Homo sapiens: one gene and its partners. The protein of the gene in region 3 binds, or shares a complex with, the protein of the main gene of each other region. Each region holds a gene or a part of one and is shown on either strand. Other genes may lie near its edges. The genes, in order: HMG20B, MTA3 and HDAC2.

The links.
Region 1: HDAC2 (region 3) and HMG20B share a complex: the UniProt entries of both Homo sapiens proteins name them as parts of the BHC histone deacetylase complex.
Region 2: HDAC2 (region 3) and MTA3 share a complex: the UniProt entries of both Homo sapiens proteins name them as parts of the nucleosome remodeling and deacetylase (NuRD) repressor complex.

What each region holds. Positions count from the first base shown.
Region 1 is NC_000019.10:3,571,528-3,575,860, reverse strand, and holds the start of HMG20B (SWI/SNF-related matrix-associated actin-dependent regulator of chromatin subfamily E member 1-related), read right to left. Parts: upstream 2,918-4,333; 5' UTR 2,867-2,917; exon of another isoform or gene 2,570-2,866; 5' UTR 2,552-2,569; coding exon 2,514-2,551; exon of another isoform or gene 2,170-2,513; coding exon 2,061-2,169; exon of another isoform or gene 2,044-2,060; intron 1,479-2,043; coding exon 1,275-1,478; intron 322-1,274; coding exon 201-321; intron 1-200. UniProt on the Homo sapiens protein: Required for correct progression through G2 phase of the cell cycle and entry into mitosis. Required for RCOR1/CoREST mediated repression of neuronal specific gene promoters.
Region 2 is NC_000002.12:42,575,127-42,578,775, forward strand, and holds part of MTA3 (metastasis-associated protein MTA3), read left to right. Parts: intron 1-3,649. UniProt on the Homo sapiens protein: Acts as a component of the histone deacetylase NuRD complex which participates in the remodeling of chromatin.
Region 3 is NC_000006.12:113,933,146-113,936,794, forward strand, and holds part of HDAC2 (histone deacetylase 2), read right to left. Parts: 3' UTR 1-3,649. UniProt on the Homo sapiens protein: Histone deacetylase that catalyzes the deacetylation of lysine residues on the N-terminal part of the core histones (H2A, H2B, H3 and H4).

The DNA of each region.
Region 1 (4,333 bases), on a different chromosome or scaffold from region 3:
GCAATTCTCCTGCCTCAGCCTCCCGAGTAGCTGGGATTACAGGCACCCGCCACCACGCCCAGGTAATTTTTGTATTTTTAGTAGAGGGGGAGGGTTTCACTATGTTGGCCAGGCTGGTCTGACCTCAGGTGATACACCCGCCTCGGCCTCCCAAAGTGCTGGGATGACAGGCGTGAGCCACCGCGCCCGACCCCTCCCACCTTTCTTGATCTTCTTCTCCTGGATCTTCTCCGTGCACATCTTATAGGCTTCAGACTGCTGGTACGCCCGCAGCTCCTTCATGTACTGCTGCTTCTCTCTCTCGGCCTCATCCAGGTACCGCTGGGGGGCAGCACCAGAAGGCTTGAAGCAGGGGAAGCCTCCAACGCCAGGATCCAGTCTTTATCACTCTGCTTTCACAGCACCCTCCCCTCTCCTGAACCTTCTATAGCTCCCTATTCCCTCCAGGCAGACAGAACCGGCTCCTCAGCCTGTTGCTCAGGGACCTCCGAGCTCCCACCTCACTTCCCATGCCCCGGACTCTTCCCCACCTCCAGCCCTGACAAACCACTCCCGGACGCCAGAGTCATGGGCAGGAACCCAACCTCCAGCGTATGCGGATGCCTGGACTCCCTCCCGCACCCGTTTCTCTCTTTGAAATCTCACTTACAGGGATGCAAAGCAGTGATGGCTTTTGTTACATTTCCGTGATGTTTTTGCAATTTTTAAACTAACAGGATATGAAAATCGGGTTTCGCAAAAAATCCAGGCCCCATCCTGACTTCTTAGACATATCTTTGTTGGTCATCCAGTTTTCAATCTGTCTTGCCTCTTGCTAGCCGCGCCCCCAAAAGCTGGTCATGGGCTGGCCACGGTGGCTAACGCCTTTAATATCAATACTTTGGGAGGCTGAGGTGGGCGGATCATTTGAGGTCAAGAGTTCGAGACCAGCCTGGCCAACATGGCGAAACCCCATTTCTACTAAAAATACAAAAATTAGCAGGGCATGGTAGCACGCGCCTGTAATCCCAGCTACCTGAGAGGCTGAGACAGGAGAATTGCTTGAAGCCGGGAGGCGGAGGTTGCAGTGAGCTGAGATCACGCCACTGCACTCCAGCCTGGGCAACAGAGCAAGACTCCATCTCACAAAAAAAAAAAAAAAAAAAGTTGGTTATGGGTGGGCATTTCTCCAGGAAGAAGGAAAAACCCTGCACGTGGAATCCTTTGGGGGTCGGGGCTACTGGGGGGTAGTCCGTGGACCCCGCCAGCCCTGCTCGGCGCCCCGCCCCGCCCACCTGCTTTTCCGTTGGCTGCAGCTTGCTCCACTCGGCGCCCAGCATCTTGGTGATCTCGGGAAAGGGCAGATCCGGGTGGCGCGTGCGGATCTGCTCGCGCCGCTCGTTCAGGAAGCGCACGTAGCCCGTGACCGGTGCCTTGGGCCCATTCGGCAGAATCTTCTTCCGCTTCTTGCCCTTGGGCCAGCCGCGTTTCTTCACCGGCTGCAGAACCGGGCTGCGTCGTTGGGAGGGGGGCCTGGCGTACTGGGGCAGGGCTCAGAGGGGCATGGGCGGGGCCTAACGCGTATGGGCGGGGATGGGGGCGGGGCCTAGCTGGGAGGAAGAACCCGGAAAAGATGGAGGTAGGGCCCGGTCAGCAGTCGGGACACGGTGGGTTAGAGGGATCCCTGGCCAGGGGTGAGGGGATCTGAGGAACTATGGGCCGAGGTTTGAGTACAGGGTTGGCGTTGACTTCGGTTGTGGGCGTGGCCTCTGCTTGGTGGGCGTGGTTTTCTGCTGGAGAACGGGCCCACAGGACCAAGGGGAGGGTGCCGCCCCCAAGGAGTGGAAGTGGGCGGGACCTTAGAGTGGGCAGAGCTGGCATTGTGCGGTGGGCGGGGCCTGGACTTAGAGTGGCAGAGGACCTGTCAGGGGCGTGGCAGCTGGCACGGGGCGGGGTCTCAGCTTCCAGAGGAAAATGGGCTGTGGGCGGAGCCACAAGCAATTCAAATCCAGCCTGGGGCGGGGCTTCGAGGCTGGGGCGGGAGCCCGGGGCCTCCCCCAGCTCAGCGCAGGGACTCTCACCTCCTCCTCGTGGGACCCCTTCTCGCCCGCGCGTGGACCCTCGCCGCGCTCTTGCTTGACAGTCACCACGAAGCCCCCATGCTGGCCCGGAGCCTTGCCGCCCGCCGGCCTGGAGCCAAGGATACCGCGGTCAGCCCCGTCCCAAGAATCTCCCCTCCCCCAAAAGCCCACCCCAGGGCGTTTTGACCCCCGACGGCGGGGCTGCAGCGAGAGTGCATGAGCCCGAGGAGGCAGGGTCTGATGGGGTCAGTATCCGGGGAAGGTGGGACAAGCGGGGCTCCTGGGAGGGACTGGAGGCCGAGGTGGGGGGTGCAGAATTGGGTGGAGGGAGAAGCCCCCTGACCCAGGTGGGGGAGTCAAGACTCCGGCGGGAGGGACTGGGTCAGGGGTTCAGGAGCTAGGGCTGCAGCCGGGAAAGTAGCGAGGGCGTGGGGAGGGGATCAGTGCACTCACGCGGCGGCCGCGCCGGGCTGCTTGGGGCCGTGGGACATGGCCGCTCCGGGCCGGACCTGGAACACGGACGCGGGCGGAGGTGAGTAGCGCCCGGGCTGCCCGATGGCAGACCGCGAACTGGGGTACCCCGCGATGGAGAGCCCCGGGATGCCGGGCCCGGAGCGCTGGGGGGGCCGGATCCAGGGGCAGGGAAGTCCTCGAGGGCGGGCGCCCCAAGAATCCTTTGTTGGGCGATTGCCCCCCCCGGGAGGCCTGGGCCGGTTTCCCCCGGGCCAGGAAAGACCCCGGCCCGGCCCTGGGACCCCTGCACCCCCGCCCCCTCTCAGGGCCCGGAGTTCCGCGGCTGTTTTCACCTCCAAAGAAACTTTCCCGGACCTCCCGACTGCGCGACGCTCCAACCAACCGCCCGCAGCCCGCCCCCGTCGGCCGCCCCGCCCCTCCCCGCCCCCGGCATGCTAATGAAGGCCTCGGCGAACGGTCCCATTGGGTGAGACCTTCCCCCCGGGCGAGCCCATGCAGATACCGATCGGCGCGCCGGCCGGCGATTGGTTGGGGAGGTTGCTGAGTCGCGTGGGAGGTTGGTAAGGAAGGCTGCGGGCGGTGCGTCAAGTTCGGCTGCGCTCGGCCGCGCTCGGGACCAATCGGGAGCGAGTGGCGGACTTGCCGGGCGGAGCCTCTTAAAGGGCCAGTAGGAGAGGCGCGGACTCCTCCTCCCTCTCTGAAGGCAAGACTCCCAGCCGCTGCCGGATGGGGCGACCGGCGGATCCGGGTCGGGCCCCGCCCCGGTTGCCATGGGGACGGAGGTGGGTTGCTAGGGTTAAGGTCCTGCGAGGCAGTCCCCAGCCCTAGGCAAGGTGGGACCTGTTCTTAACATCCTGCAAAACCTAGCGGAGAAGTTTCCTATGTATTTACTCAGTTTAGAGCCCCCGACGTCCGGATCCGAGGGCTTCTGGCCATAGGGGCTGCTCTCCCTCTGGGGTCTCGGCTTTCCCCCCTGTGCAACGGGGACATCACACGATATCCAGGACAGAGAGACTGGGATGCTGGGAAGCTGAGAACTGGGTGTGGGTCAGGCAGGGGGTGGGGTTGGGAGCTGGGCTGGAAGTGTTTGGGGAAAGATGGTGGTGAAGGGAGATGGCAAGGACTTCGTGAGGATGGGTCAGGAGGCTCCGCTCTGGTGGATCAGGGACCTCCCAGCAGCAGTCTAGGCTTCTGGCCCAAGTTGGGGCTGCTCACCTCCTCTTTTGTTTTTGAGACGGAGTCTCACCCTGTCGTCCAGGGTGGAGTGCAGTGGCTGGATCTCGGCTCACTGCAACCTCTGCCTCCCGGGTTCAAGCAATTCTCTGCCTCACCCTCCCGAGTAGCTGGGATTACACGCGCCTGCCACCACGCCCGGCTAATTTTTGTATTTTTAGTAGAGACAGGGTTTCACCATCTTGGCCAGGCTGGTCTTGAACTCCTGACCTCGTGATCCACCCGCCTCGGCCTCCCAAAGTGGTGGGATTACAGACGTGAGCCCCCACGCCCGGCCCACTTCCTCTTCCTCAAGTCCGCTTAAATGTCACTTGCTCAGCCAGGCCTTCTCTGATTTTTTTTTTGCCTCCATAAGTCGGCTTCTCCCTGTGGCCTGCCTGTTTGGTTCACAGCATTGCCCATGGTGGATGCTCAATACACATTCATTGAATCCTTCAGATGTCTAGGAGGCAGATGCAGCTGCTTTGGAAAACAGACTGGCATTTCCTCAAAGGGTTAAATAAATGTGGAATCACCATGCAATTCAGCAGTTCACTCCTAGGAATATACTCCAGACAACTGAAAAC
Region 2 (3,649 bases), on a different chromosome or scaffold from region 3:
GCTCTGCCTTGCTTACTTGGCACAAAGCACAATGGGCTTTTGGCTGTTTCTCCCTGCAACCACCTTAGGAGGACCGTTTATTTGTGTCCGTCCTACCCCTCACCCCTTGCTCTTTTTTCCATATCATTTATCACCTCCAAATATACTTACTGTGTTTATTTTCATTACCTGTCTTCCTAGAGTGTCAGCTGCAGTGATCTTTTCTGTTTTGTCCAGTTATGCATTCTGAGTGCCTTAGAATAGTGGCTGGCACATAGTTAAAGGCATTCACTAAATACTTGTTGAATTAATTAATTTCTGAAATGTCTGATGTTAATGCTTATGTGTACATAGCTTTACTATTTACAAACTGCTTTGATTCATTCATTTTACAAATAAAATTGAGGACCTTCTACCAGCCAGGTACTTTTAGACAGTGAGAATGCAAGGGTGATAAAAAAAAAACAGGTCTAGTGGAGACAGACATCAACCATATAGTCCCACAAGTGAAAGTAAAATTGTAGCTGTGCTAAGTTTAGAAATGTCACAGCATGGTGCTCTGGAAACCTAACCCAGGATTCACGTTTGTTACCCTTTTGAGCCTCACAGAACCTTACACCTTAAGGTAGCTAAATCATGCATTGTTTTCTTGAGGCACATAGTAGCTAAATTATTGGGTTGCACATCTAGGTGAACATAGCTTATTTCACACTCCTTTATCATTTCATGGCCATTCATTTCTGAAATGCCCCCCTCATCCATCCTCACCTCCTCCCTCCGCCTACCTGTTGTCAGCACAGAGTCATCCATGTAATAGCGAGTTTCTGGGACTGGGGTTGTGTTGTGAGAGATGGGATTCTTTGTAATTTCACAAAATGGTAGTTTGAATGGCTAATTGAAATATTTACATAGGGTCTTTATTTCTGAAGGGATGTGAAAAAGACATCTTATTTTAGATAATTCATTAAGCAAATATTATTGAGTACCTGTTTTGTACCAGGCACTATGCTAGGCTCAGAGATAGAATGTGAACAAGATGTACATGGTCTCTACCCATACAGGGTCCACATTCTAATGAGGGAGACACCCGGAAAGACAAGTTGATGGGCATAAAGAAAATAGTAATAGTAATGAATTGTATTAACTTCTAAGAAGGCAAGAACCTTGACATAGAGAATGACAGGTCATTTCCTTTAGGTAGGGTGGAACAGGACATTGAAGTTGAGGCCTAAAGGATGAGGAAGAGGGAACCATGGGAAGAGAGGACGCAGGAGTGTTCTAGATAAAGGCCCTGGGAAGATCAGAGGTGAAATTGGCTAGGTAGGGAAAGTTGTTAACATGATGGGAAAATCCAAATAATGATTTAAAAATACTTGAAGACAGGCATGGTGGCTCAGGCCTGTAGTCCCAGCTGCTCGAGAGGCTGAGGCAGGAGGATTGCTTGAGCCTGGGGGTTTGAGACCAGCCTGTGCAACATAATAAGACCCCCCATCTCTGAAAAAAACCAAAACAAGGCCAGATATGGTGGCTCACGCCTGTAATCCCAGGACTTCGGGAGGCCGAGGTGGGTGGATCACCTGAGAGGAGTCTGAGACTAGCCTGGCCAATGTGGTGAAACCCTGTCTCTACTAAAAGTGCAAAATTAGCCGGGCATGGTGGCGCATGCCTGTAATCCCAGCTACTCGGGAGGCTGAGGCAGGAGAATCGCTTGAACCCATGAGGCGGAAGTTGCAGTGAGCTGAGATCGTGCCATTGCACTCCAGCCTGGGCAACAGTGAAACTCCATCTCAACAAACAAACAAAAAAACCAAAACAAAACCACCTCTAAACTGAAAATACTTACTTTGTTCTGATAGATAAGCTAGGGAAAAAAGGCTACTTGGGAGGCTGAGGCAGGAGGATCGCTTGAACCAGGGAGTTGGAGGTTGCAGTGAGCCGAGATTGTGCCACTGCACTCAAGCCTGGCAACAGAATGGTACTCCATCTAAAAAAAAAAAAAAATATATATATATATATATATATATATATAAAAATGAACTCTTAATTGCTGTAATGCACTTAGTCTCAAACCCTGTACTCATTTCATTAAATGCCATTAACAGTTGCAGACTGGCACTGGGCTGTAGACCCATGAGTAACCATGCTTCAGAAGAATGCTGGAGAGGGTGTGTTTGTAGAGGGGAAGAGGAATATGGTAGCTGTAAGCTACCTAGTAGCTAAGTGAGTGCATGGTCAAGAAGAGACTATTTATTTTGAACTATGCTCCCCGCCCCCTAAGCAGGTTTAAATAAGAATTTAATTAGCTTTGTATAGCATCCCTATTGGAGGAACTCACTAGTGAGGCAGAAAAAAATATGCCTTGAAACTGTTGATTTGGATTTTTTTTTTTTTTTGAGACGGATTGTCACTGTGTCACCCAGGCTGGAGTGCAGTGGTGTGGTCTTGGCTCACTGCAACCTCCACCTCCCAGGTTCAAGCGATTCTCCTGCCTCAGCCTCCCGAGTAGCTGGGACTACAGGTGTGTGCCACCACACCCAGCTAATTTTTGTATTTTTGGTAGAGATGGGGTTTTACTATGTTGGCCAGGCTGGTCTAGAACTCCTGACCTCGTGATCTGCCCACCTTGGACTCCCAAAGTGTTGGGATTACAGGTGTGAGCCACCGCACCCGGCCTGGATTTTTAATGTCTCAAGAAGAGACAAAAATCACATTGAAAATCCAAAGCAGCAGTTTCAAGGCATATCTCAAGAAGACAGAAATGACTAAGAGCTTATATTTGAAGTCATTGATAGATTTTATTTTATTTACATGGAAATTTTGGCCTGTTCATTTAGCAGATTGCTGGATCATTACTTCTGGAGAATGTATTTGATCACAATATTATGAAATATAGAAGCACTTTGGTTAGAAATTTAATATGATTTCAGTTTTAAGGGGCACTGTTTCCACAGGACTATTTCTTAATCTAAAATACGGCTGCTGGACTTCATAAAATTGACAAATTTACTGCAGCACTTATATTCTTCTTTGTATTTGAGTATATCTGTAAGACCAGAGAAATTTCTGAAAATTTGTTCTCACACTTGTTTGAAAATGGAAATCACAATAGCATTTTATTATAATCTGTGTGTTTTTACAGGGAACTTTGTAATGAATGATTGACCTTCTTGAGAGCTCTCAGAATTCTAGAGAATAGGAGAGCAGGAGCCTGGGCCCCAGCTGCAGTAAATGACAGCATAACTGAATTTTTTTTTGAAGCCATCATACTTTGGAAGAACCTAACTGAATATTGTTTGCATTGTAGATTGTAGCCAAAAAGAAATGAGAGTTTCAGTGTTCATAACTCAAGGTTTTTAATATTTTTAGATGTGAAGGTAAACTAAGTACTGCTTAGAATATTGACTCTTAGAGATTCATAGACTTCCTTGGTGTAGAGAATGCTTTTCCAGGTCACCTGGTCTATTCTGCATGATGGCTGCTTCCCACCTGCAGAGCTTCACTGTCCATGGAACATGGGATACTTAGGGGAGGGCTTGGTGATTTTACACTTAGCTAGTGCTTTCTGGGAATGGGTTTGGACGAGGTGTGTTTAAATGACTGAAATAAATTATTTCCGTCAGTTGTGGCTTTAAAAATTGGTGGGATTAGTTTCTTTCTCTTTTGTTTTTTT
Region 3 (3,649 bases):
AGTTTGCTTTCAAAATGATGCTCATGTTCTCATTCACTAAGTGATTAAAGTTAACATCATCAGTAATGAGAGAAATTGAAATCATGCATTACCTGACTGGGTGCACTGAGAACACAGCATCATTCCTGTGATATTCTTGCCCAAAACATGCAACCTATATCTAACCATGAAGAAACATCAGACATGCCCACTGAGATATTCTACAAGGCCAGAGGGTTAAGTGACTTTCCAAATTTCACAGGACTTGTTGATGGCAGAACTGGAATAGGATTCAGTTATTCTGACTCCTGGACCTGAGATTCGATCCTATCCCATCCCATCTTATCCCATCTCCTTCTGTCCTCTTCAATCCTCTTCTATCCCCTTCCATTCCCCTTCCCACTTCTATTTCCATTCCAGTCCATTCTATTCCCATTCCATTTCACTCAAATTCCATTCCATTCCACAAATAATAATTGAGGCTTTATTTATGTGTTAGGCACTGTTCTAGACACTGGAGATTAATCCCCAGTGGAGTGTAAGACAAACAAAACCCTTGCCCTTATGAAACTCTTAATCCAGTGAAAGTAAGCAGAATGGTGGCTGCTCCTTGTCTGACATTCTTTGTGTGTGTGTATGTATATTATATAATATACATACACACACATATATACACATGTATATATATATATGTGTGTGTATACATATATATAGAAGGAATTCTCTTTCTTTTATCCCTTATTCCAATCCTGTTATTATTAAGGATTATATTTAACTTTACATGTTCAAATTAGTATAGTTCCTGTCTCCTGACTGAACGCTGATGCAGGGAAACTCTGGTCTCTGACTTTGATTTTTTTTTAATAGTAATGTTTGGTACAATCAACTGACTTAAAACTTTAAAAAACTGAATTTCTACGGGTAAATGTTTAAATATGAGAAAAAAGTTGACTTTAGAATGTCTAATAAGCCTATCCTATTCAACAACCAAGAAATAGATTTCATACCTATTACACATAAAGATATAAAGGCATATTTTGGACTTTAAAGAGCTTGCAGGACAGGAAAGGCAAAAACATTTTATCCTGAATGCCAACTATCTGGGTTAATGACTATCTGGGTTGATACGCATCTCAAGGCCAGAAAGGAATGATCAATTTGTGACATCAGACAGGTAAAAGACGGAGTGCTGGAAAAGCATGTCAGCTGTTACCTAGTCAGTTTCATAGATTTAGTAAACTGAAGCACAGAAATTTAAATGACTTGCCCAAAGCAAAGTTGTGTAATGTAAAGGCTGGTGCTAGACCCATATATGTGATTTCCAGTGCATTGTTCTTTACTTGTTGCTGCTCTAGATGATGATGGTGTTTTGAGGTCAGGTCGGAAGTACAAACAATTTAAGATGAGGCTTGTTTACCTTACCTATAGGGGTCCAGATGTGTTTTTCTGGGAAATCAGATTTATTGCCCACCATAGTCACAAACAGACTGGAAATAAGATAGATTTACAGAATTTTCTGCCTAACTCTAGAAATAGGATGGCAGAAGAGTCATTACATTAAGAAAGCCCAATGCTGCCATTTACTTTAAGACATATAAATTTGGATTTCAAACAAAACAGCTTACAAAAGGGTGTTTGGCATCAAAAGGGAATAGCACAGGAATTATACCTAAGTCCATTACATATAACACTGAACTATACAAGTAAATGTGTTTGACAATAACAATGCTTATTTGATTGTTGGGGAAGGTGACAGCTAGTAATACGTTGGACTTGAATTATATTTTTTCCTGGAAAATGGTATCTAGAGTAAATTTTTCGCACCTACTTGCCCAAACTTTCTTATCAGATGCTGAGTTGAAAAGAACATACCTAGATTCTACGGAAATTAGAAATCTAGCCTTTTTAAGAATATAACTTTGGAAATACTGGTGAATGGTAGATCTCCCATCCTCATGCTTGGAGGGCTATTATCTACCACAGGGCCACACAACAGTGCCCTCTTAAGCCCCTTAATTTCACCTAGTCTAGCCAAAGGCAACACAAGTTCAAACTTTCCGGCTAGACTTCAGAATAAGAAAATTTTTGAAGTGCATTTCTCACTTAAGGACATAGCATATTTAAAAAATAAGAGCAAAAGGGGAAATTCTTGTCTTTTTAAATCAAACATTATTTGTTGCCAGAAGTGTAATGACTTTTTGTTGGTATTTGTTAAGTACAGCCAGTTTTGATAATGTGCTCTCTTTTACTTTAGGAATTGCCTGTCCGTACTTTCCTTTAAAAGTTTTACCTGTACATCATCCTAGTAAGTATATGGCAAGGGCAGGGAAGTGACCCTGGATGTTTATTTCTGAAGAAACAAAAAAGATGACTAGTAGAGGATACAAGAGAAGCTGGAAGCTACTGATTTATCAATAGAATAAAAAATCCACAACACAAAAACAGATTAGAGTCTTCTTTGTTCAACTCACTCCTAAATACAAACCACTGGCTGCAAAATGGGTCTGGCCAAAAAAAATCTCCTATTCAGAATCCTGCTACTCATTTTACCTTAGAAATAATTATACATTTCTTTAACATTTAGAGTAAAAACAATCTTAATAAAAAGAGCAAATAACAGAATCTAATCAAGGTGTCTTCTGTCCTTAACTGTTTGTTCTACTAAAAAAGAATTTTTCATTAATAATCCTAATCATAACTCTGCAGTGTTCAAAGACCAAAGGGGTTAGGTACTTAGTTCAGTAAACAAAAGTCGTGGAACAAGCACCCAATGCCCCTGAATATTAACTTCACTATAACTATAATTCCTAGAAATAAATTTCAATTCTTTCCCATTCTGTATACTAACTGATTCTTACCACCAGTCAAAACAGAAAATTATTCTGGCTCTAATATTCAGTTCCATTTTGTCTGACTAGCAAAGTCACAATTAGTCAATGACTACCAGATACACTCTACTGTGTTTTGCAGATGTAAAACTTAGAAATTAGTGTTATAATTCTTATAGGAAAACCTAAATCAGTAAACTTAATTGTAGTTTAATTCAAAGTTTTTAATCCAATATTGCATTCAAAAAGAATCTGTTAATACATGTTGCTCTGCTTGTTACATGGCCACCAAGTGACTATAAGAGAAAACACACAGAAAAAAAAATTTTAAATGCAGTATCTGCCATCTTGTGGTACAGTGAGGAAATGCAGCAATTGAGAAGCTTCTAAATGCTGTAATCCTAAACATTTCTCCGCATTGCTCATGTAAATAGCCAATAATAACAATATGATAGTTCTATTTTTTCTGTAATCTACTTAATGCCATTTTTCTTGAGATTATCCTTGAGTAAATTACAGAGGCATCAAGATCCCCCCAAAGTTGTCAAATATTATTCGTATCCTTGCTAAAATCAGGTCTCCAAAAGATTGCTTCTCTATCCACTATGACCTAGTAGTCTTCACACTAGTAGGCATCAAACTGCAATAAAAGGCTCAGATACAACCCATCTGGCATCTAAAGGAACACTCAAAAATTTAACACTTCCCCTGGCACCACTCTCACCCATCTATCTACCTTTACCTCATAACAATAGCAAGCCAGGCGCGGTGGCTCATGCTTGTAATCCCAGCACTTTGGGAGGCCCAGGCGGGTGGATCATTTGAGGTAAGGAGTTCAAGAC